2 separate regions of the Homo sapiens genome follow, and region 2 is linked to region 1. Evidence: fine-mapped expression QTL. A gene starts in region 1. The other region holds a variant in brackets. All regions are shown on one strand. Distances are from middle to middle.

Region 1 (17,464 bases):
TAATCTAATTTTTTAAAAGTTCCTCATGAGAATCTGATGACCAGCAAAGTTGGGAAACGATGTAGTTTGCTTATTCTTGAATATTTTTGGTGTTGGAAGACCCATCACCTGCCAAAGCTTCCCATTCCACATTGGATAGTTATTTATATTGAGGTAAAACCTGGTTTCCTCTAGCTCCTACTTCTACCTCCTTGAGGCCACACAGAACATCTCAAATCTCTCTTTCATATGACAGCCCTTCAGATATTTGCAGACAGCTGTCATGTTCTCCTTGGCATTCTCTTCTTTTGGATAAAATAATCACATTGTCTCATGGCTCTTTAAAAAAGCACAGAAGAACAAACATTTCTAATTTGACCTCTAAGAAAATGGAGCTACGAAAACCCCCAGTTTTCATTTGACACTTAAAGGACCAGAAAATGAGGATTTTGAGGCTCAGGTGTAGGTAAGAAATACTGAATGGGAAAGGACTGTTCATCTTCATTCTAGCAAAGGATGGAAATGCCTGGGATGGATGCTACCAACTGCATGTGACTTCCCATGCAGAAATCAGAGGCTTCTGCAAATTCCCCAAACACTTGATGTGTTTAGTACACATCTTGGCTTCAAATTTCAGCCAGGACCCACCTAGGTGTTAATTACATGGGTGCAGCCATAGCTAATATTTTATTGTGATTCATTGTGATTTGTGCATCTTACTGTATTTAATACTTCAAAAAAGTGAACAACAACAAAAAAAGCCAGGCCAAGTTGTATGGGGACTGCAACACATTTTCTCAATAGAATTCACCTGCCCAAGGTTATGTCTTCAATTCATCCAATTCCTTCTTGATTCAATTTCTCACTTCTCCCACTAAGCCTACAGAATGCCTGGCTGGGGTTTCAATTCCTTGTACAAACTGTGGGTGTAGGACTTGATGTTGGAAAAAAGAGAAATCATCAGTTGAGAAATTCTTAGCAAGTGTTTAGAAATTTTAGGTCCTACCTCTGCTCTTATAGATATATATTTTTTTCATAGATCATAATGAGGAACGTCAAACTTCATTTTTAATTGTGCATTCTCAGGTTTGATTCCCAGAGGCAGAAGAATTGGAAATGGCTAAAGCACTGTATACATATGTGCCATTTTTGGCTTGGAGGAACCTTAGAACTTCTATGCCATCTCTAGAACCATGTAGATATCGCAACATCCACCAAATCAGTTTTACAAAAGATAATTCAATTCCTTATAGCCAATATAAGAAAGGGAAATATGGAATTTCCCTGAGGTAAATGACTTCACCATACCCAATCACAAATGCTCACAAATATCCAACTTTTGTCATTGTTTAGGAAATAATTATTCTAGAATTTCTGTCAGTATATTGAATACAGTATAAGCTTTAGATAATGTTAATTCAAGACCACCTAATCCAAACGTATCATTTCCCAGATGAATAAACTGAGAGTTGGAGAGGGTAAATGTCTTAACCAAGGCCACAGCGATACTTTGCAGCATTACCCAGGTCTTCTGACTTCACATGATCCTTGCTGCATTAAAGGTAGCCCTTTCCTACCTGGGCTTCCCACCAGTTGCAAATTTGTGTTAGAAACAGAATCAATTGTAGTAGCGCTACGGTCAGGAGAGCAGTTGTTCAAAGTGTCAGGACATGGGAAAAAGGCCAGAGAATGATGCAATATTACACTGGCAAGTGATGTCATAGCATGATTTCCCAAGCGATTTACATAAATGCAAGTTCTCAAGAAGCCCTGACAAATGCCAGCCAGTGAAAATGCAGTGTGAAGAACCAATGGCAAGCAGGGGAGGGGACCACACAGGAAACGCAGATTTCCTTGCCCACCACTGTGACAAGCTTCACAGATTTCTCGGAAGCCTAAGAAAACCCCTACTGCCCCTCTAATCCAGTGACTTCCCTCAGGCACATAGGCTCCAAAGAGCTTTGATTTTCTTCCTTATCTTTCTATTTACTCCCAGTGATATCCAAGCATTGCCTACTGGTGCTGAGAGTGACTTCTGGTGTGGTGAAAGCAAGTTTAATAGTGTGATAGGCTACAAAAGGGCTTTATATTTTTAAATTGCTCTTTCTTCTTCATTATAAGTTATAACTACTCCCTAATTTTTAGAACTAGAAATGACGAACTGCAATTCTTGGAGAATCAGTCTTTTGTAAATGTCATGGAAATACCTTTTTAGGGGTTTGGGAATGATTTAGGAATGAAGACAGGTGGATACAAAATACCAAGACTTCAGTTTTGTTGTGATCCAAACTAATAAAACATGTATCAATAAGGATTTTTTCTTAAAATGTGTGCATAGGGTGTGGGTGGGAGTAGGGGTTTACATATGTTACCCTGTTACTGATTGGCAGTGGAAGTTCATGACAATATCTAGTTAGAGCAAACTCAGGAGAAACTGATAAGTCTATGTTGAGAAATAATGAAATAGCTCAGAATGTGCCAGACCGGGTCAGGATCTCTCTCTCTCTCTCTCTCTCTCTCTCTCTCTCTCTCTCTCTCTCTCTCTCTCTCTCTCCCCCCTCACTTCTTTCCTCTTGTCCCTTCTCCTCCCTTCCCTCCCCCTCCCTTCGAAATCCAATTTAAGCAGGGTTAAAGACCCCATCTCAAGCCAGAGATCCAAGCAGTTGACAATATGCCTAGGGATTTTGGATTTGAAGACTTTTCTAAACTGCAGAAGCTGCCTAGAGTGTGACAAAAATCTCATCTCATGAAGCTTATACTAAAAACAATCAACAAGACCCAACCCCTTTAACCCACATGGCGTCAGTCTTGCTGTTAACAGAGTCTGGGCACCTGCACATTCTCAGCAATAATTTGAACTTCTCTTCTTTCCTTATCACCATTTCCATCTCCTCCAAACACCCACCAGAATATCAGAACTGGATTATTCAGAGCTATTGAGAGGAAATTGTAAATACCTTCTAGGCAGCAGGTCCTCCACAGCCCCGAATGGGTCATTACTTCTTCATTCTTCCTGCTGGTTTCATTATCACTTGTAGATTTAGTCCTGCACACACCTCTGGAATATAACCAGTAGTCCGTGCCCACTGCAATGGTCATTAAACTAAAAGCGGCAAAGGCTCCTACAGTGGTGATCAACATCTGGATACCTCTGTCACACATCCTCATAATTCTTCATGGTACTCTGGACGGCTGGGGGTTGGAGGGGGAGAGTCAGTGCCGGAGGGGAAAATCACTCTGCAGCCGGGTAACCTAGTACAGGCTCTTCCAAAAATTCAGGTCTCCTTTTGTCAGCATCCACAGGGACTTTGGGAAAGCTGGGATTTCCTTTCTGGAGCTCTCTCCAGTTCCCTGGGTCGCCTATGGCCCTCGGAAGGGTGCAGGCTCCGGGGGGTTGGTCCGCATCACTGCTGCCTTCTGAGGGTCCCTGGGTTCCTTTCATTCCTCAGGAGCGTGGTAAAGACGAGGGTCCGTGCAGGGCATGGCTCCGGAGCCTGGAGCTGCCAGCTCGGTTTGAGATGCGCCTGGCTTCTCACAGCCCCGGGAGACTCAAGGCAAAGAAACCCAGAGAGGTCTCTGTGTGAGTGTGTGTGTGTGTGTGTGTGCGTGCGTGCGTGTGTGTGCGAGCGCGTGTGCTGGGGGTGAGGGCGGATGGCAAAAAATAGCACTGCTGGGAGGCGAGCCGCTGAGAAGAGTGTTCACTGCTTCCACAGCCTCGCAGGAAAGCTCTCCGCCTGCTCCCGACACCCCCGCTCAAACTGGAGAAAAGACAGAGTCCTGGGGCGGGGGCCGGCTGGTTTCCCTGGGGGCGCCAAGGTCCGTGGTGCTGAAGGGACAGCTCCCCGCCTGTTGCCCCGCCTCCGTCGTCTTAACGCCTAGGCTTTAAGGTCCGTGGTGCCGAAGGGACAGCTCCCTCATGCAGCTGCACACCGCCGCCCGGGCTAGAAACCCGGGGTGCTAAAGGGTCTTTCTTCCCTCACCCCGCCCTTCCCCCGTTCCTTCCCGGGTCAGCCAGCCGGCTCGGCTCTGCCCAGTCAAGCCCACTCTCCGCGCAAAGTTTCTGGAGCCGAGGACAGTCAGCGCCCTGGCTCCTGGGCGCTGCAGCACGACCCGGTTCCTCCGCTCTAGGAAGGGTTAAGGAAAGGGGAAGGGGAGCGAAGCCCGTAGCGCACTCTGGCGCTCCCTCAGCACCCACCCAACGCGGCATTCTTCAATCCTCCCTTTCACCCCATGAGCCAGGCAAGTTTGCCTTTTGCTGCGGGCACCACTGGAGCCCATTGGGGAAAAAGAAGACCCGAAAGACCGAGTCTTCTTAAAGGCACCGGCAGCTCTGGAGACGGCTCTATGGCTCGCTTAGGCGGGCAAAAAGTGTTGTCACAATCACATCTGTGTAGAGTCTGTCTCAATTTGGTTCCCCAGCAAACAAACCAATATGTCTACCCTCCTTTCTCTGGAGCTCTGGTTTACACCGAAGACAACCCGCTCAGATCAGACCCGGAACTGTTCATATATACATGATCATGTATTCCTAAAAGATGGAAGAAGCTAAATATACATAGACTCTGTCATACACATATTAGGGACCTTGGGCAAAAGACTATAAGATTTTGGCCTTTGAATATGCCTTTTATACATTTTAACATATCTACATCGAAGGGGGTGATGGATTCATGGTGGGAGAGTCACTGAAAATGTCAGATTTTGTTCAAAGGTCTCTGAGATATCATTTGTTAACATTGTTATCTAAGTGAGACCATGAAGCAGGTGAAGTTAGGTCTGCTTTGCTTGTTAGTCCAAAGGGCAAATGGCATTGCACACCTGAAAGCTCTCTTCCTTGGAAATAGCCAGTATTGCAAAGGACCAGCATTTAACCAGCTTTTTATTACTATGTATTCCGGCATATGCATGGGCACACACCGAGTTGACTAGAAACAGCCCACAGAAATGCCCTTATTATTTTTTTTCTTATGGCATCCTGGGACTGATATCCAGAGGTCAGATAGTTGGAAATGAGGTTGCTTGGGTTGTTTCCACAGTTCCTGAGATGTGTCCGCAACCAACTGTCATGTTTGAATGTTATTTAGCTGGACAGAAATATAACGGGAGGTAATCGCAGACAAACATACTCCCCTGGTGCCATCTCTGGCTGCCTGGGAACTTCTATTCAGGTGACTGGGTAGCAGGAATATATTGAAGGGTTCGCAAATGCAGCTCACAACTTCTTGGTGACTTTGCTACTTTCATTTTGGTGTTAAGACTGAAGACTTTATTCTTGGTGTTAGATAAATACTCATGTGCAGGAGGAAGTTTGAATATATAGCTGTGGAGTGATTGTGTTTGAATGCTCACCTGTGCTATGTTCAGTTTAGTTATAAATTCTGAATGCCTGTGAATCCGTCATAGAAGTAAAGCAAGTATGTAAATGTATGTTTGTACCTGCAGACAGTGTTATGGACCATGTGAACATATTTGCTGCAAATGCCTAGCATTTTTGCTATGCATATGCATACATATTTGCACATGTATGTGTATGCATGCACGTGTGTAGGTATAGTATAGATTTGAATATGTAGGTGTGTATACCTATGAGCATTTAGTTGCATATGCATGTGTCGTGGTTCAAAAACACTGATTTATGGACAGGAGGTAGAAATACTGAAATCTTGCCACATAATCCACAATGGAATGGATAAACTTGGGGCCAGCACCACAGCCGTACTCCAGAAGAATGACAGAAGATAGTAGGGAGAGGATACACGAGGGCCCCTACAAGTTTCTTAGTGTCATTTTCTTTCCTGAAATGAAAATTTGCATCTTAATAAAAATATCCTGCCTTGATTGTTATTACCTTTCTTTTTTAAGGGAAAGCCATATGTAACATGGAGGTGAGGTTGGTATTTCTTGGGAGGGATTAATTCAGTTAGCAAAAATTTCTCTCCCCACTCTCAGAAAGGTAAATAAGATGAAATAATTACTAATGATCAAAGCAGTCATTTCAGGATCTGTTTGATTCTTCTCTTGCTTGGATAGAAGTGAGAAAGGTCTTCTTTCAAAGAAGGACCATGTTGATGAAAGGTGAGTGAGCTTCGGGCTAAGGGACAGTATGCCCCAATCTCTCCATTTACCAGACCCACAGTGGAACAGCAGCATCTTCATCTCCACCCACTTAGCTCTACAACAGAAGCGCAGACAAGCAGAGTATGGTGCCCAGGAGCCTAGCAGAAGGATAGTTGGGGGAAAAGGATCAGGAGCTCAGGTAGATGAAGGTAACAATTATGGGTCAGGATGCACCCAGTTTTGCTGAATAAGAGAAAGGGATACATGTGATAAAACTGGAGCTTTGTCCTGAGCCTCTGACTTGGTGAGGCAGGCTCATTCTTTGGAATTGCTGTCCAGGGCCAACCTGATCACTGTGGGAAGTCCCGAGCCTGCATGTGGAGCAAGTCAGAACAACTGAACGGAGTGGGAGTGTGGAGGCAGGGAGGCCGCAGTTTGTTCCCTATCATGCCTCCCAACTTACTAGGGGGTGACCTCATCCTTTCATTCAATTGAATGTGTAGGTGTGTGGACCTGGGCGCGTAGAATCTGCTTGTAAGGCTAGAGATCGTTCCTCATTTTCACCACTAGAGGGCTCTTTCAACAGATCAATGAGGGACCCAAGAGATTCAGAGCTCTCTCCAGGGCGGGCTGGAGCTAGACTCTTGTCTACTAATAGCCCTTTCTGATCCCACTTATCTGGCAGAAGACTAGGAGACATTCAGACATCTTGCAACTGATGTCTGATTCTCTTATTAAGACTTTTGTTTTCTTCTATTGGGCTGTCAGCTAGTGAAGTAGTTGGCACGGTGTATCTATTTATGCTTTTTCCTGTCCATCTTCTCATAACATCTGGAGGGGTCAGTGATCCCTGTAAATGGTTGTGTCATTTAGGAAGGAGTACTCTCAGTTGCTTCAATTCAACAGATGCTTTTCGAGTGCCTACTATGTGCAAGGCATTCCCCTATGTGCTCAGCACCTTGGAGAATACAAAGATATGATTCCCATCCCCCAGGGAGAAGATTATGCAGTTGGGAATATTTTATTAGTGAGTTCACTTTGACTGTAAATGGCAAAAACTTACCAGAGCTAGCTTAAGAAAATGGGGAATTTAGTACAAGAATATGACGATGTTTCAAGGAACCACAGGGCAGAGGTTCAATCAGGCCTTGGCAGGGAGCTGGAACCAGCAAAAAAAAAAAAAAAAAAAAAAAAAAAAATGCCATCAGGAGTCTTGACAGTCACTTCATTTTGCATCTCTGCCTCTTTTCATATTTTTAGTTGAAAAATTGTTTTGCTTCATCTATTCTTTGATCCTTGAAATAGAAGCTAGATTTTGAGTTCTTATGTCATCTCTATTTAAGAAACCCACCCAGACTAAACTGGGAAGTTTTAGTCCTAATTCAAAATTTCCGGGAGAGACAACCTGATCAGCCTAGCTTATGTTGCTTGCCACTTCCTGGTCCATGCAGCTGTGGCCAACGATTCAGGGTCATGTACTATAAACGCAGCCATCAGGACCAGCCCCTGTGAGTTGTGGGAGGATAGTTCTTAGAAAAGGGGGAAATTCTGTGATACCTCAGAAGACTTCTGTGAAAAGTCTATGTGATCTACTTGTGGCACCACTCCAGTGATGTCCATGGGATCAGCAGTAAAATGTGACCACGAAGGAGAAGACAACATGGCAGGATATGGGGCTTAGAAGATATTGGACCCCAACTAACCTGGGTGTCAGTGGTACCAAACCAGCTTTACCTTTTGTCAGAAGAGAATGGAGCATCATCAGTTAGAAGAGAAAAAGTCTTCAGAGGTAAAGGCACCCACATGTGTGTAAGTCAAGGAGATGATGAAAACCAGGCACACATGGACTAAAGAGTGTCATCCCCGCCATCTTGAATTCTCTCTTGATGTTCACACATAGCCTTGTTATGAGTTTTCTACTTTTAGATTCAACCTATAGAAAAAAGCATTAAAAACCAAATATGCTTACAAAACATTCACACATCATTATTTCAACTTCAGTCTTGTTAACCTTCTTTCAGTATTCTCTCTCTTTCTCTATTCTCTATTCTCTCTTCTTTCTCTATTCTCTCTTTGAACCCAATTACATGAAGTTATGTTTCTACTCTCTAGACAGTGATAGAAATTGGAGGTAGAAGGAGGGGAATGGTAGGATGTAACATCCTGATATTATTATACAAAGAGAATAGACAAGATATACTTCTAGAGTTGATAAAAGGAGATCTAGAGTATCTGGTATGTCATTGAAAATTAAAGATAACCAATATAAAAATAAAAATATTCTAATCTATATTTGGAGAAGAGAAGAAGAGAGGTTGAGGTGAAATGAACTAAAATAAAATGAAATGAGTAATGAGAATGAACAGGATGGGACCAGAACAGTTGTTTTTCACTACAGCCACTTCTATCTGATTTTAAAAATCTTATACATGTATGTTTTGATAAAAGTTTAAAGTTAATTCAAAAATAAATAAAAACAGTAAGCACTGTGCCACCTGTCCTTCTCCTCCAACTACCTCCTATTTTATTGATACAGAAATGCCAGGTGTTTCCTGTGACTCACCCATTGATTTCCTGTGCTGAGAATGCTCTTCCCTGAATATACTTTATATGTAAGAAACATTTATTTTAAAATAATTTTGAATTTACACACAAATTGCTGCCACTAGATATTGTCATGGTTCAATCCCTCACTTCATTCATACCTCAGCTCAAATGTCACCTTCTTAGAGAATTCTTTAACTGCTCTATCTAAAAATAACACCCCATACTTCTCTCTATACTCTCACTCTGCTTTTTCTTCATAGCATTTATCAATATCTGACATTATACTGTATATATGTACATATATGCTTTTGTGCTTATTGTCATCTTCCCAACTAAAGCCAAATAACTCCATGAGAACAGGTGCATTGTCTTGTTCAAATCTAAATTATCAGACCCTAGAATAGTGCTCAGGATATAGTAGGCATTTAAATAGTATTTGTTTAATCAACTAACTGCATAAGTAATTATTAAGATTTACACCTGTGACAGGCACTGATGAGCAAATAACAAGCAGGAAAGAGATTGCTCTTGATCACTTGAAACTCTTAGTCTCATGAAGAGGACAGAGACAATTGGACCAATAAGAGCAATTGCAGGCCAGATGCAGTGGCTTGTGCTTGTAATCCCAGCACTTTGCTAGGCTGAGGTGGGAGAATCACTTAAGGCCAGGAGTTTGAGACCAGCCTGGGCAACATAGTGAGACCTTGTCTCTCCAAAAATAAATAAATAAATAAATAAAATTAGAATTAGCCAGGCATGGTAGTGAACACCTGTAATCCAAGCCGCTCAAGAGACTGAGGCAGGAGAGTCCTTTGAGCCTGGGAGTTCAAGACTGCAGTGAGCCATGATGGTGCCACTGCACTCCAGCCTGGGCAATAGAGTGAGACCCTGTCTCAAAGAAGAAGAGGAGGAGGAGGAGGAGGAGGAGAAGGAGGAGGAAAAAGAAGAAGAAGGAGAAGAAGAGGAAGAAGAAGAAGAAGAAGAAGAAGAAGAAGAAGAAGAAGAAGAAGAAGAAGAAGAAGAAGAAGAAGAAGATGTTGTTGTTGGTACACCACTCTTCAGATTCTCTTTACTGAATTGATTCATTTATACACCTCTAGCCCTGACCTTTCTAACCCACAGCTGCCCCTTCCAGGGATAATTGGTCTCAGCTGATGGGAGCTGCCTCTCCCGAGGAATTAGAGCCCTTCTCCCTGCAGTCAGATACAAGGGTGCAAAAGTCTGGCCTCTTCCCAGAGGCAGGGACAACTCTGAGATACAATTTATGCTCTAGAGTCTTCCGATGATCAGGCCAAGACTACCACATCCTCGTTGGGCTTCATCTCCATCCTCTATGGTTGCCAAACCATAGTGTGCATTAGAGTCGCTTAGAAGGCTTGTTGAATGAGACATTATTGGGCTCCACCCTCAAAGTTTCCAAGGTGGGTGGTGCTTGAAGATGTTCATTTTCAGCAAGTTCTCAAGAGGTATTAATACTGCTCTTTAGGAAACCACAACTGGAGAATCATTGCCTTTTCTTATGCTTGTTCCCATACTCCCTTGGGGTTTTTCCTAAAGGTTACTTTCTCAATAAGTCTTTTGCATCCAAATGTCTGCCTTAGGCTCTGCTTCTAGGGAATGCTACCTAAGACAACAAGGAGGAATAGTAAGGAACTACATTCCCAAACAGTTCCCAAGCTTGATACATAGCAACCTGAGACTATTAAATCCCTAAACAGCTAAACTCCTAAAAGATCCTTGAGCCCAACAAGAAGCTTGTCCTTTCCAATTCCACCTCAGATGAATCTAGGGAGAGAGATGGACACAGAAGAACCTTCCAGGGGGCAGAGAGTAGGGTGATGAAAAGTAATGAATAAGGAAGTTTCTCTCTGAAAAGGGAACAGATTTGCCAGCCAGGAAAGTCTTCCATTCTTAGGAAAGACAAATATTATTCTTGCTCAGTTGATCACTTCTATACATGTGTGACTGCTGTGTGTACTTTAGTCTCTGCTTTTAAAAGGAGTTTTTTTTTTATTATGTGGCTCCTTCTGCACAATTAAATGATGGATGTGCTGGAAGCAAGTAAATTGTCTTTTAGTTTAGACCAAGAGAGGACACACCCAAACCTGCTGTAGAGGGCTGCAAGCTGCCCAGAAATCTTACCTTTTACGTGGATGAGACTTTGGGGGTGATGTCCTTTGGGTAAAGATAAATGTATTCTATGTATAGAATGACATTTTCTGACTAATTATCAGAGAAAAGCAAATTAAAACCACAATGGGGTATCATCTTTTTCCAGTTAGAATGGCTATTATTAAAAAGTCAAAAAATAACAGATGTTGGTGAGGATGCAGAGGAAAGGAAATGCTTACATACTGTTGGTGGGAATGTAAATTAGTACAGCCTCTATGGAAAACAGTATAAAAATATCTCGGCTGGGCGCAGTGGCTCACGCCTATAATCCCAGCACTTTGGGAGGCCGAGGCATGTGGATCACTTGAGGTCAGGAGTTTGAGACCAGCCTGGCCAACATGGTGAAGCCCCATCTCTACTAAAAATACAAAAATTATCCAGGTGTGGTGGCATGTGCTTGTAGTGCCGGCTTCTTGGGATGCTGAGGCAAGAGAATCACTTGAACTCAGAAGGCAGAGAGGCTGCAGTGAGCTGAGATTGCGATACTGCACCCCAGCCTGGATGACAGAGCAAGACTCTGTCTTAAAAAAAAAAAAAAAAAGAAAAGAAAAAAAGATTTCTTAAAGAGCTAAAAATAGGACTACTATTCTACTGTTCAATCAGCAATCCCACTACTGGGTATACTGGGTATATACTCAAAGGGAAATAAATAATTATATCAAAAAGATACCCACACTTGTGTGTTTTTTGCAGCACTATTCACAATACAAAAATGTGAAGTAAACCAAAGTGTCCATTAATGGAGGATTGGATAAGGAAAACGTGATATATATATGTGTGTGTGTGTGTGTATATATATATATATATATATATATATATATGCCATAGAATACTATGCATCCACAAAAAAGAATGAAATTATGTCTTTTGCAGCAATATGGATAAAATTGGAGGTCATTACCCTCACTAAAATAACTCAGAAACAGAAAGCCTAATGCTACATGTTCTCACTTACAAGTAGGAGTTAAACAATGCGTACATATGGACATACAAAGTAGAAAAAATAGACTTTGGAGACTCCAAAAGAGGGTAGGAGGGGGGTGAGGGCTAAAAAATTACCTATTGGGTACAATATTTACTATTTGGGTGATGGGTACACTACTATTTGGGTGATGGGTACACTACTTCACCCCTATGCAATATACGCATGAAAGAAAACTGCATTTGTACCCTCTAAATATATATTTTTCAAATAATGATATTTGCTGGCAAAAAAAAGTGGATTGTTACAGAATCTTCTAGTTACTTACCCAGTAGGCTTTCCTTATTTCTTCTTACATAAGACTCCAATTGTGACTGGGGACACTCTCTCTAGCTGAAATAAAGTTACATTGTTCAGTTTTCCTCACAGAGTAGGATGGTTTTGTCATAAAATTCTGACTGATACAATGTAATCAAAAATTGCAGTGTAGATAATGGCTAAAAGGTGAGAACAACCCAAGTATTCGTCAACAGACAAATGGATAAACATAATGTGGTATATACATAGAGTGGAATATTATTCAGCCATAAAAAGAGTGAAGTTCAGATACATGTCACAACATGGATGAATCTTGAAGACATTGTGCTAAGCAAAATAAGCCCGATGCAAAAGGACAAATATGGCATGATTCCATTTATATGAGGTACGTAAACAGGCAAGTGCACAGAGACAGACAGTAGATTAGAGTTTATCAGGGGCTGAGAGGAGACAGGAATGAGGAGTTATTGCTTAATAGTTACAGAATTTTTGTTAGATATATGAAACAATTTTAGAAATAGAGGTGATGATTGCATAACCTTGTGAATGTGATTAATGCCACTGAATTGTATGCTTACAAACATTTACAATGGCAAATATTATATATATTTTACCAAAATTTAAGAAAGGGAAAACCAAACTTGTTCTGTGGGTTTTCTGTAAAATCTCCTCCCAGCAGGTTTTTGGACAGACTTTGCTAGCACGTAGGTGACACCTTTTGCTCTTGGCTTTCTTCCTACCCGGAACTAGGACTTAATGGTGGAGTCAGATCAGCCATGTTGTTGCATAAGGTAACAAGCACATGTTTAGGATACCTGAAAATAAAACAGAAGAAGCCTGATCCAGGTGTGGTGGCTCATGCTTGTAATGCCAACTATTCAGGAGGCTGAGGTGGGAGGCTCACTTGAGCCCAGGAGTACATCCTGAGCAACATAGCAATATCCCCTCTCATCTCTAAAAGTTTTCTTTTTTTTTTTTTTGCCAGGTATGCTGGAGTATGTCTGTAATCCTGATTACTTGGGAGGCCAAGGTGGGAAGATCACTGGAGCCCTGGACATGGAGGCTGCAGTCAGCTATAATCCCATATCATTGCACTCCAGCCTTGGCAACAGAGATATACTGAAAGAAGCCAGAGTCCTTGATAGCATTATGGCGCTACTACTACAGGCCAAAAGCTTTTATCTCAACAATTCTCATTACATGATGAAAACAGACTCTTTCACGTATTTCACCCCTTTTCAAGTTTAGCAGGTGAGCACAATTCCTAATTTATTCAGGCAAGGAGACATGAAATTAGAGAGGTAGCCTATTGGTCATAAGCTTCTAGTTACAGTTAACAGAAATCCAACTTAAAGTATATAAGACAAACAGAAGTAATCAATTAATATATGTAACTTAAAAGTCCAAAGGTAGATATCTATAGCTTCTGGGGTCCGTCTCTCTCCATCTCAGACCTCCCCCCTCTGCACTTAGCAGGCTGTCTTCTCAAGCACCAAGAGCTCCTGGCTTGCATCTTACCAGCTGAGCAATCCTAGGAGAAAGAGGACATCTCTCCACCAACAGTTACAGTAAATGTCTTGGGGCTGCTTTCTCATTGACTCATTTAGTTCATACCCACCTGAACCAATCATAATGGACACAAAATGGAATTCACTGATTTCTAGGTTTGGGCTTCCTTTCCAATCTCTGGGCATATAGGAAGGAAAACTGGCCTTATTTTAATCCATGTGGATGGACAGTAGCATAAAGGATGATGTTTTAGAGAAAATCGAGGGTGCTGTTACCAGAAGAAGGTTGGATAAATGGTAGGAAGTAAAGAATAATAGCTATTCACTGTGCACTACAGATAAACAGATTCCAAATTATTCAGGGACTTTTAGCCATGTTAGGTCACTCAACAAGTATCTATTAAGATCTACTTATTTGCTAAGCACTGCTGTAGGTTCTAAGGGTACAGCAATGAGCAAGACAGATAGATTCCCTGCTTTGAAAGAGCTTATATTTTAGGTGAGGGAGATAGCCAGTAAACATGAAACCAACCAACAAAACAAACAAAAAAATGCAGGTAGTGAAAAATGCTGCAAAAAATAAACGTAAGCAATGTGATACAATATGACCAATCTTGGCAGTAGAAGGACTGCTTTAGGTAGCATGGTCAGTGGGGCATTCTGGGGAGGTGGTTTCTGAGTTGAGAAAAGTCAATAGTGAAGGAGGAGTCAGTTCTAAGAGGATCTAGAAAAAGGTATCCCCAGTGGAAGGATCATGAATGCAGCTTGTTGAAAAACAGAAATGGTCAAGTGGTAGACAAATGGTAAACAAGAGGAAAAATGGTAGAAAATCAGGTTAGGGAAGTGGACTGTGGCCAGACTGTATAGCCCTAGTTGGCCAGGTTAAATGAAGTTTGGGTGTTAATTCTTTTGCAGGGTGAAGCCATTGCACAATTTTAAGCAAGGGAGTTAACAAGATCTGATTTACAGTTCAGAGATTTCACTCTAGCCACAGAGTGGATGGCACAGGCAAGAATAAAGGCTTGGAGATGAATTAGGAGGCAGTGGCATTAACTCAGGCAAGAGATATTGTATTGATGTCTTGGATGTTAAGGAATATGACTGTTTCCTGAAAACTATGGGGAACATTGAGAGGTTTTAAGCGGGGAATGATGTGGTCAAATTTTTGTTTTGTTTTGTTTTGTTTTGTTTCTTAGTGGTACATCAGTGCCTTGTCTGTGCTCCATGGGACAAGAAATTGTAGCAGAGACCCGGAAGATGGCAAGAAAATAGCAGATCTCTTTGGCTCCAAGCTTCCCTAGGGCTTTGCTCTTCTTCTCACCACCTAGATTGAGGTATGAGGTGGGGAGGTTGTGAAATTGGCCATTTCCCCAAGACTTGACTTTAGAAACCAGACTCAGGATAAAGATCCCCCAAATTGTGTCTTGGACAAACTTTGCCAGAAGAATCAGGAGAAAGAACCTTTGTTCATCTCTAATCCAGAACAGGTTTTAGGAGAAAAACTTGAATCTATGGAAGCATCAGACCCTGCACTTAGAGCATGGCAGATAGTATTGGTAGAGAAAATGGGATGTGGGGCTAGAGAAGCTTGGGTTAGAGTCCTAATTGCATCATCTGTTGTGTGACCTTGAGAAATGTAATCTTTCAGTGTCACTTTTTCCTCATAAATAAAATATGGATAGTAATAGAAGCTATATCTTTGGTCAATGAAACCTCCTTCTTGTGTAATGAGGATTACATATGATAATACACATAAGTGCTTAACACAGTGCCTGGCACGTATTAGGTGTTCAATAAATGTCAGCTGCAGCTATAAATAGAAGTATGATGCCAAAGAAGCTGGCTCTTAATGAGATTTGCTTTAATCTGCCACCTTCAGAATAACAAACGGCTATTACGTGGTTAATCAGTTTCCCTGAGACTTACACAAGAGGAAAACAAAATGACCCAAGAGGCAGTTAGAGATTCAAAAGGTGTCTTTATTGAGAGATGATATAAATACTTCAAATAGACAACTAAGAAGCTTAAAACCTTCCTAAAATTTTGGAAACCTTCCTAAAATCAAGTGAAATAGAATGTAGTTTGGGGCTCTTCCTAGTGGCTTGGAATGTTGGCCAAATCCTCAAAGGTGAAAACAATAAGCATGAAATATTCCCACATCCAGAGCCAAAGAGCTGCCACATGACTCCCTAGCATTTACCAAGAGATGGCCAAGTGTGTTCTGTGGTCCTCGCTCTGATGACTCCCATCTCAATGATCTAGACTGAAGGCTGGAGTTCAATGAGGTGGGAGAAATGGCTAGGAGAGGAAGGTACTTTGGATTTTTCCTATTCCATCCCCATGATAGAAGAGGGAGTAGCTCTCGCCCACCAAGCAAGTAAGAGGAGGCCCAATCAGCTTGTTGGAGAGATTAGGGGAGACTGACATGCTACTCCCTGATGCTTGCTAACCTGTGGAGACTCTAGGTTGGTACCTAGAAGAGAGCAGTGGGTTCCAGCAGAACATTGTGTGGGACTACTGGGGAGAAATTGGCAAGTGTTGTCTGGTGTTTGGGGCACACATGAACACCTGAACATGGAGGCTGGTGCCTGGATTCTACCTGTAGAACTATGATAGCAAGGGGTTGGTTGGAACCACCTTCCACTGCAGAGCAGGAAGAGAGAGCATCACAAAGCAGCTTACACTTCCAGGATTTCGTGTAGCAGAGATGTGCTGAGTACCAAGTAGATGCTGAGAAAGTAACTGAGCTCAAGCTCTCTTCATGGGATCATGCCCACAAGAGAACAGCATATGGATGTCAGAGAGCAGCAGCCAAAATAGAACCACAGGCTGGGCACGGTGGCTCACACCTGTAATCCCAGCACTTTGGGAGGCCGAGGCTGGCAGATCACTTGGGGCTGTGAGACCATTCTGGCCAACATGGGAAACCCTGTCTCTACTAAAACTACAAAAAAATTAGCTGGGCATGGTGGCACACACCTGTAATCTCAGCTACTAGGGCGGCTGATGCAGGAGAATCGCTTGAACTCAGGAGGTGGAGGTTGCAGTGAGCCAAGATCACGGCACTGCACTCCAGCCTGGGTGACAGAGCAAGACTCTGTCTCAAAAAACAAAATAACAACAAAACAAAATAGAACCACTGATTGCACCATCTAAGTAAGACTTTCACCTCTCACCCTCAACCAAACCCCAGATGCCACCCTCCCATTTCAGCCCCAGGGGAACCTTCAACAGAAGAAGGGGAATGAGAGGACATCCCTCCTCTCATTCCCACTAGTGGAGGCTCTCCACTGATGGTCAGGCTAGAACTGGACAGAGGGAAAGGCTTTGAATGGAATGGGAGGTTGTAGTATTGATTTCAACTAAATTGGACTTTAAAAATATTTTTGTTATGAGAAATTCCCAAACATATACAAAACGGGCAGAAAAGCAGAATGAATGGATGCCCTTGTACCCATTGCTGGCTGCAACAGTGACTGACTCATGGCCAATCTTGTCATGTCTATGCTCCATTAACTATCATTCTGAAGCAAGTGCCAGACGTTCTATTGCCTCCAGATGGGGCTTTTGAATGCCTGCGCATGAGTTCTAATTACTAAAGTAAGGTTCTTAACATTGAAAATGACTGGAAGACCCTGGGTTCTTCTTGTTTATTTTTTTCAGTCTCTAAAGCATAAAGTTCCATAGGGTAGAGAATTTTTCTATTTTATTCACTGCACTAGCCCTATACTCATAATAGCACATAACACATAGTGGGTGCTCGATAATTATTTGTTGAATGAATTATTTGTTCAAAATAGCCTGGCCTCCCTTTGCCATAATCTGAGAAGTGCTCAGATTGAAGTAAAAGGTAAAATGTTTATTTTTTTTTCCTTTTTGCTACCCATCACAAGGTAAAATATTTATATTTTGTTACTCAGTTGGCTTGCCTCAGTACTGACCCAAAGTTATTGAGCAAAAT
Region 2 (8,000 bases), 94 kb before region 1:
ACGAGAAAAAAATACTTTGTCAGAAAAGCTATGGGCCTCTCTGAAGAACTTAAAATCAGCTATACAAGTTGTGAAGAGAAGTCACAGTTCTGTTTAGTCTCCGACAGAGCAAACGTCAACATGTTTTATCAACATGAAAAAGAAAAACAAAGAAAATCTATGGGCACTCTGGTAAAACCCCACTGGTGATGACTAATGCCATTCTCTATTGAGAAGATGCAAGTGATCTGTGTCATCTCCCAAATTTTGGTTAAGCTACATCTCTAAGTGTGGCTAATTTTGCTCTCCACACTGAATCTTTTTGAGCTGCTGATGTGAGGGGTGAGAAAAGAAAACAACTTTTATCTGAGTAACGCAAGTCCTTTTAATTATCAGGCCCAGAGAGACATTACAATGAGACAGTGATCACATCCTTCTCTCCTCTTTGAGCTGGGTACTCATCTCTTGAAATTGCTGGCTTTTGCCACAAGTAGCATAAATTAACCTAATAATGCTGCATCTGACACTATCCTCCACACCGTGTAGCCAGTCACTAATCAATATTATTGATTAGCGCAATGGCACAATCAATGCAATGGCACGATCACTGCAATGGCACTGCAGCCTCAGCTTCCTGGGCTCAAGCAATCCTCCCACCTCAGCCTCCCAAGTAGCTGGGACTAAGGGTGTGCACTACCATGCCTGGATAATTAAAAAAAAAAAAATTCTGTAGAGTTGGCGACTTAATATGTTGCCCAGACTGGTCTTGAACTCCTGGCTTCAAGTGATCCTCCCACCTTGGCCTCCTAAAGTGCTGAGATTACAGGTGTGAGCCATTGCACTTGGCCTCACTATTTTGAGTGAATCCAACACAAATTCTTGCTGAAGAAATTACATTAAAATCCCAAATCAAGTTCTCTCTGTGCCTTGACCAATGGAAGGCTCATCTCTGCAGTGAATTTTGCATTGCTAATCCCATGCAAGAAACGGGAGCTAATGCATATTGCCTCCTGACTATGTGTTGGGCCCCGGCTAATTTTTGTGACCCTGTCAGATGGATGACATTATAATCTCCATTTCAGAAAAAAATGAAGAAAGGTAGGAACTAGAGAGAGAGGTAAAGCCCCTTGCCTCAAGTCCAACCCAGCTAGTAGAGTCAAACAAGGGTCAAAGCCCAGATTCCAGAGGCCTTGGCTCAAAGCCACCACATTCTTTTGGCTCCTACATGCTGTAGTTGTGACGGTTCATGTCATATCCAGGTTACTGACTTTGGAAAAATCCTACAGAGACATTGGCTCTGTCCCAGTAGGACTGAAACTGGAGGGAAGTCAAAGAAGAGGTGAACTTGGGTTTGTATTTATTCTCCTAGGTCTTGCTCCTTGGGACCTCACCCATTAGCACCTCACATCACCCATTAGCACTCTGCCATTAGCACCTCCAATCAACCCTCCTGGGAAAGTGAAAACTTGCATTCAAGTTAGAGAAAGTTCCTTAGATTTTTCTCCTAAACTGACTAAAAAGAACCTTTCAGTTTTGACTCACCTACTTTTCTGTCTTCCTTCCTGCCTTCCTTCCTTCCTCCCTTCTCTTTCTCTTTCTCTTTCTCATTCTCATTCTCCTTTTCTTTCTCCTTCTCTTTCTTTTCAGAGACAGGGTCTCACTCTGTCACCCAGGCTGGACTGCAGTGGTATGATCATAGCTCACTGCAGCCTCAATCCCCTGGGCTTAAATGATCCTCCCACCTTAGCCTCCTGAGTAGCTAGGACTACAGGTGTGTGCCACCACATGCAGCTAATTTTTTAATTTTTTGTAGAGATGGGTTCTTGCTATATTGCCCAGGCTGATCTCGACCTCCTGAGCTCAAGCGATCCTTTCTGGCCTCTGCCTCCCAGAGTGCTGGGATTACAGGCATGAACCATCCCCCACCCTACCCCCTGCTTCTTCTTTCTGTTTCTAATTCATTGAAACTAAAGAGGCTTAGCTCTCAGAACCACTTGAGTGTCTCTGTGTACTGGCACATGGGGCTTCTTTGCACTTATCTATTTCTAGGGACAGATGCTGAGGAAGCTCCGACTCAGAGGCAGCTGAGTGATGGCAGAGGCCCATCCCTTCCTCCCAGAGAGACCCGAGAAGCCGGGGAACTTACGCAGGAGATATTCGGCTGTGTCCTGTTCGTAGTCAGCATCTTCAGGGAAGTGATCGATTTTCTTGCACACGCCTCGGAAAGCCCCTGTGGAAACAGATAAGGGTTCTGAGCCTGGGGGAGGAGACAGAGCTCTGGGGGCCAGCCTGGGTCCTCACCGCTATGTGCAGATCCTTTCTCTGGTTGTTGGGGGCTGTAGGGTTGTTGGGCTGGTAGGCCCAAGAGCACCTTTATTTTTTATTAGAGACAGGGTCTCATTCTGTGGCCCAGGCTGGAGTGCAGTGGTGCAATCATGGCTCACTGCAGTCTTGAACTCTTGGGCTCAAGTGATCCTCTCACCCCAGCCTCCCAAGTAGCTGGGACTATAGGCATGTGCCACTATGCCTGGCTAATTCAACATTTTTTGATAGTGACAACAAAAGGTCTCACTATCTTGCCCAGGCTGGCCTCAAACTCCTGGCCACAAGCGATCCTCCCTTCCTCAGCCTCCCAAAGTGCTAGGATTACAGGCATGAGCCAACGGGATCAGTCATCAACAGCATGTTTCTTTAGGGCACAAAAAAGAGACCAGTAGAGGCAAAAGATAAACAATACAAAGCAGGAGATGGAAATTTGCTGCTTTTTAGATTTTGCATGATGTTGGGATCCACTTCAGAAGCGCAAAAACACCATGAAACATAAACACTAATTATGAAGACTATCTTATCTTTCCCCTCTCCTCCAGTCAGTGAAGGAAAAAGCAGGCAGAATTCAAGTACATCATTTTTTTCGCTCATTTTACCAATGAGGAAACAGGGCTTAAGAATTTTTCTTGAAATCACTCAGGTAAGTAGCTATTTAGGTTGATGTAAAAGTAATTGTGCAGTTGTGCAATTACTTTTGCACCAACCTAAATAGAACCGGCATTCCAATCAAGAGCTGAGTCCAGGCATTCCAGAATAGTCCACTCTCCCCAATGATGTTCATATCTGACCACAGGACACTCCCTTTCCCTCTCTGCCCTCCCAAAGGATCACAGCTCATCTCCCTCGCTATGAGGTTCACCCCTTTGGGAGCCTCAGATTTGCTGAACATGCATCTTGAACATCCGTCCACATTTGCTGTCTTTTTTGTTTTGTTTGAGACAGAGTTTCTCTCTTGTCGCCCAGTTTGGATTGCAATGGCACGATCTCGGCTCACTGCAACCTCTGCCTCCCGGGTTCAAGAGATTATCCTGCCTCAGCCTCCCGAGTAACTGGGATTACAGGCACCTGCCACCATGCCCGGCTAATTTTTGTATTTTTAGGAGAGATGGGTTTCACCATGTTGACCAGGCTGATCTCGAACTCCTGACATCAGGTGATCCACCTGCCTCGGCCTCCCAATGTGCTGGGATTACAGGCGTGAGCCACCTTGCCCGGCTGAGGTGTGGATGTTTAATCATCATTTTGGGTGTTAGTTAACTAGACAGTTAACCAGTCTCTGGGGGCAGTTAATAGCTCTGCCAGTTCTTTTAAAGGACAAAAAATTTTCCAGAAATTATGCATTCTTGTCCCTTTCCCTGTCTGTGTAGCTGGAGTGGAATCAGGGGGGCGGGCATTGTGATGTCGTGGGAAACGGACAAGGTTC[G/A]GAATCAGACAGAGCTGCGTTGGTATTTCAGAACTGTTATTGTAAGAATGAAATAAAGCTATACATGAACATGAGATAATTTTTGCAAAGCTCTAGGCATGTCATAATAATGGCTGACACTTATTAAGTGCTTCCAATTGGCCAGGCACATAGCTGAAACCTTACACCCCTTATCTCATTTACCCTTGTTTACCACCCCAGGAGGTAGAGGCTATTAGTATTAACATTTGATAATGAGACAATGGAAAATCACAGAGGAGATGGTGTCACAGCTGGTGAGTGACGGAATTGATTTTTGGATCCAGGTTTCAAAGGCTGTGTAGTTTCACCATTACACTATGAATAGTAGCCGTTATTATTATGGCTACCATGGCTACTATCATGATGTCTATTATGATCTCATAAAAATAAGAGTGTCATATATTTAATTTCTACTATAAGTAGGCTCCAGGCCAGAGCCATTTCATAATAAATGCCTTGGGATATGTAGAACATCTCCTTGGTTCTGATTCTCCGCTTACCAGGCAAATAATAGACTCAGAACCAGGAAGGAGGTTCAGGAGAGAAGACTCAAGGAAATTCTTAGAAAAAAGACAGACCCATAATTTCTTCCCTGATATTGGGAAAAAAAGACCTTATTCATGCTTGTTCATATTTTAGAGTTTCATTTATATATGCCTGTTTGGTTTTAAGCCCCATCCCCTTCCAGTTGACTGGATAAGAAATCATAATAAGTAACACACGTGTGCACCTACTATATACCAGGTACCATTCTAAGCATTTATGCATTTTTTTTTTTTTTCTGAGACTGAGTCTTGCTCTATTGCCCAGGTTGGAGTGCAGTGGCACGATCTCAACTCGCTGCAACCTCCACCTCCCAGGTTCAAGCGATTCTTGTGCCACAGCCTCCCGACCACCAGGCCTGGCTAATTTTTGTATTTTTAGTAGAGACAGGGTTTCACCATGTTGGCCAGGCTGGTCTTGAACCCCTGACCTCAGGTGAACCACCCGCCTCAGCCTCCCAAAGCACTGGGATTACAGATGTGAGCCACTGCGCCTGGCCACATTTACGTGTTTTATCCTCTTTAGCTATCTAAATGACTTTATGAGGTGCCTAATGTTATTTATTTATTATTTTTTTGAGACGGAATCTCGCCCAGACTGGAGTGCAGTGACGCAATCTTGGCTCACTGCTTGCTCTGCTCACGCCATTCTCCTGCCTCAGCCGCCTGAGTAGCTGGGATTAAAGGCGCCTGCCACCATGCCTGGCTAATTTTTTGTATTTCTAGTAGAGACGGGGTTTCACTGTGTTAGCCAGGATGGTCTTGATCTCCTGACCTCCTGATCTACCCGTCTCAGACTCCCAAAGTGCTGGGATTACAGGTGTGAGCCACTGTGCCCGGCCTGAGATGCCTAATGTTATAATGAGGCAATGTTATTAATATGAGGAGGAAATTGAAGCTTAGCCAAGTCACCGATTTACTCAAGGACACAGCTTGACATTTACCAGCTGACCCCAAAGACAAAGTTCCTAACTACTATTATGAATTACACTCTCTTCAACAAGTCTGTATTGTGAACTAAGTTCTTTGCCTGGTCGCTTCATGATCATTTTATAGCCTACCCCCTACTATTGATGTTGGCAATGAACTGGACCAGTGGCTTCTCCATTAACTATGCTTCCCCATGGCATGTCCCAGGGGCACCTGGGCAGGGGAAGGGTGTTGGTAGTGACACCATCCATTGTTAGTTGATTTCCGTACTCCTCATTATTTGCTGTTTTCCACGAAAGATTTCAAAGGAAGAAAGTGTTCAGGTGAAGATGGAATGGGAACCTTACTAAATACAGACCAGTCAGAATTACTGAGGGAATTCGGAACTACATACACGTGGGCATCTGCTTGTGAAATGGGCCTATTCATGGTGACTTCAGGCAGCTTGAAACTAAGACTTAGAACCAGCAAACGCCAGTAGCTCCTGGAGACGCAGTCACTAGTTTTGTTGTTGTTGTTTGTTTGTTTTTTAGGCAGAGTTTCGCTCTTGTCACCCAGGCTGGAGTGCAATGGTGTAATCATAGCCCACTGCAACCTCCGCCTCCCCAGTTCAAGCGATTCTCCTGCCTCAGCCTCCCAAGTAGCTGGGACTACAGGCATGCACCACTATGCCCAGCTAATTTTTTATTTTTAGTAGAGAAAGGGTTTTGCCATATTGTCCAGGCTGGTCTTGAACTCCTGGCCTCAGCTGATCCACCTGCCTCAGCCTCCTGAAGTGCTGGGATTACAGGGGTGAGCCACTGCGCCTGGCCTGCAGTCACCAGTTTTTAATGGTCTAAAGCAGCTTACTACTACCCACGTTTGTACAGCCCATGAGCCAAGAATGGTTTTTGCATATTTAGATAGTTGAAAAAAAAATCGAAAGAATATTATTTGTGACCTGCAAAAAAATGTGAAATTCAGATTTCAGCGTCGGAAAATAAAATTTTATTGAAACACAATCGTGCCCATTTGTTTATATTGCTTCAATTTCCTCATTATAACATTAGGCTCCTCATGAAGCCATTTTGAGAACAAAAGAAAATAAAACATGTTGATGCCACTATAACAGAGTTCAGTATTTGCCACAGAGATAGCAAAGCTGAAAATATTTACTCTCTGGCTGTTTAACAACAATTTTGCTGGTCCCCGGTTTAAAGATTTCTGTCCCAAGAAGGCAAAAATGGAAAGCAAAGGGGAGTTTGGGCCTTCCTGGGATAGAAGATGTAATCTAGGCTGGTGTTTCTAAAGTAGATAATATTGGCTTCTGGCGCAAATCTGGGTTGCAGACTGTTTCATTTTGTGGTTTAATCTGTGTGTGTTTGTTTTACCTGCAATACTCTTTTGCACATTTTATTTTTAAAAATTAAGTAAGCTTCTGCATTTTATTTTATTTTTATTTTATTTTATTTTGAGATGGAGTCTTGCTTTGTCACCCAGGCTGGAGTGCAGTGGTGCAATCTTAGCTTACTGCAACCTCCACCTCCTGGGTTCAAGTGATTCTCCTGCCTCAGCCTCCTGAGTAGCTGGGATTACAGGCGCGTGCCACCATGCCCGGCTGATTTTTGTATTTTTAGTAGAGACAGGGTTTCACCATGTTGGCCAGGCTGGTCTTGAACTCCTGACCTCAGGTGATCCGCCTGCTGCAGCCTCCCAAAGCGCTGGGATGACAGGCGTGAGCCACCGCTCCTGGCCTATGCTGCTGCAATTTAAAATTCTGAATATTTCACATTAAAAACTGATTCGCAGTTTCTCTTCAAAAATGGGGACCTCTGTCTCACATTTCCATGCGGGAGTAATGAATCCCTGGATGACGTAGCTGACATCAGCAGCCCTCTTTAGACTGGGTGTAAACTCTCCAGTTGGCCAAAGTCCCCACCTGGCTCTATATTCTTGCCTGGCCCTGTAGATATTTGAGTTTGCAACCCCCGAACCAAAATGTATTTAGTAAGAGCCCAGTCTTTGGTGTCCCACGTAGGCATGAATCCTGACTCAGCCACTTACTAGTTGTGGTATCTATGGCAAATTACCTCTCCAAACCTCAGTTCCTTCTTCTACAGAATGAAGATAATAATAGTAACTTCATGGAGTTGCCATGAGAATTAGTTGAGGCAGTAATAGCAGTTATTACGCCAGTTGCTGTTCTCAGCACTTTACACATAAATCTTTTAATTAGGCAATGACATAAAGCACTTAGTACAGTTCCTGGAGTATGGTAGGAACTCAGTATATTACAGCTATTATTACCGTTGGTTTTGGTAGGTACTTTAGGATCACAAGAGACACATTGGCGCCATGGTGAGATTTTAAGAAGCAATATAGAAGGAAAAGGAATCAAGAATTTTCCCCAAGGAAGACTCCACACTGAAAATGAATCTGCTGGCAACCCATGTCATACATGCATCACAAAGTGAGCTTGGACATTCATGTAAGTAGCATATTGCTGGCTCCCAGAAATAACCACTATTTAGCATTTTTGTATATTTCCTTCCAGGCTTTTTTTCCCCTGTGCTTTCGCACACAAATGGCTTTACAAAACTGGGATCGTGCTGTTCTTCTCACTTATATTTTCTTAGGAGTATCCTCCCATATCAGTAAATCTTAGAAAAGTAGAATGAGATTGGACTTGCCCACCCACTGTAGAAGATGGAACCAAGAGAGATGGTGAAAACATGCAGACTGCAAGGATGAAGTCAGGATGCAGAGAAGAGCACAGCTTTAAGTTCAGGCATTGGAGC

Evidence for each region.
Region 2: its variant is fine-mapped to the expression of CACNG3 in testis (GTEx, PIP above 0.99).

Annotation. Positions count from the first base shown.
Region 1 is chr16:24,242,438-24,259,901 of GRCh38, reverse strand. CACNG3 (calcium voltage-gated channel auxiliary subunit gamma 3) reads right to left here and starts at 3,567. Exons shown (of 4, transcript NM_006539.4): 1 at 2,937-3,567. The coding sequence starts at 3,147. It overlaps LINC02194 (long intergenic non-protein coding RNA 2194), which reads right to left. Exons shown (of 4, transcript NR_146569.1): 2 at 12,006-12,070; 3 at 7,771-7,969; 4 at 7,042-7,195. RefSeq lists enhancers at 3,092-3,819, 12,393-13,592.
Region 2 is chr16:24,340,943-24,348,942 of GRCh38, reverse strand. It overlaps CACNG3 (calcium voltage-gated channel auxiliary subunit gamma 3), which reads right to left. Exons shown (of 4, transcript NM_006539.4): 2 at 2,126-2,209. Among named protein-coding and RNA genes, the nearest start is that of CACNG3, 89 kb to the right of the region's middle. RefSeq lists an enhancer at 4,910-5,411. The variant G/A (reference allele first, on the strand shown) is at 3,731.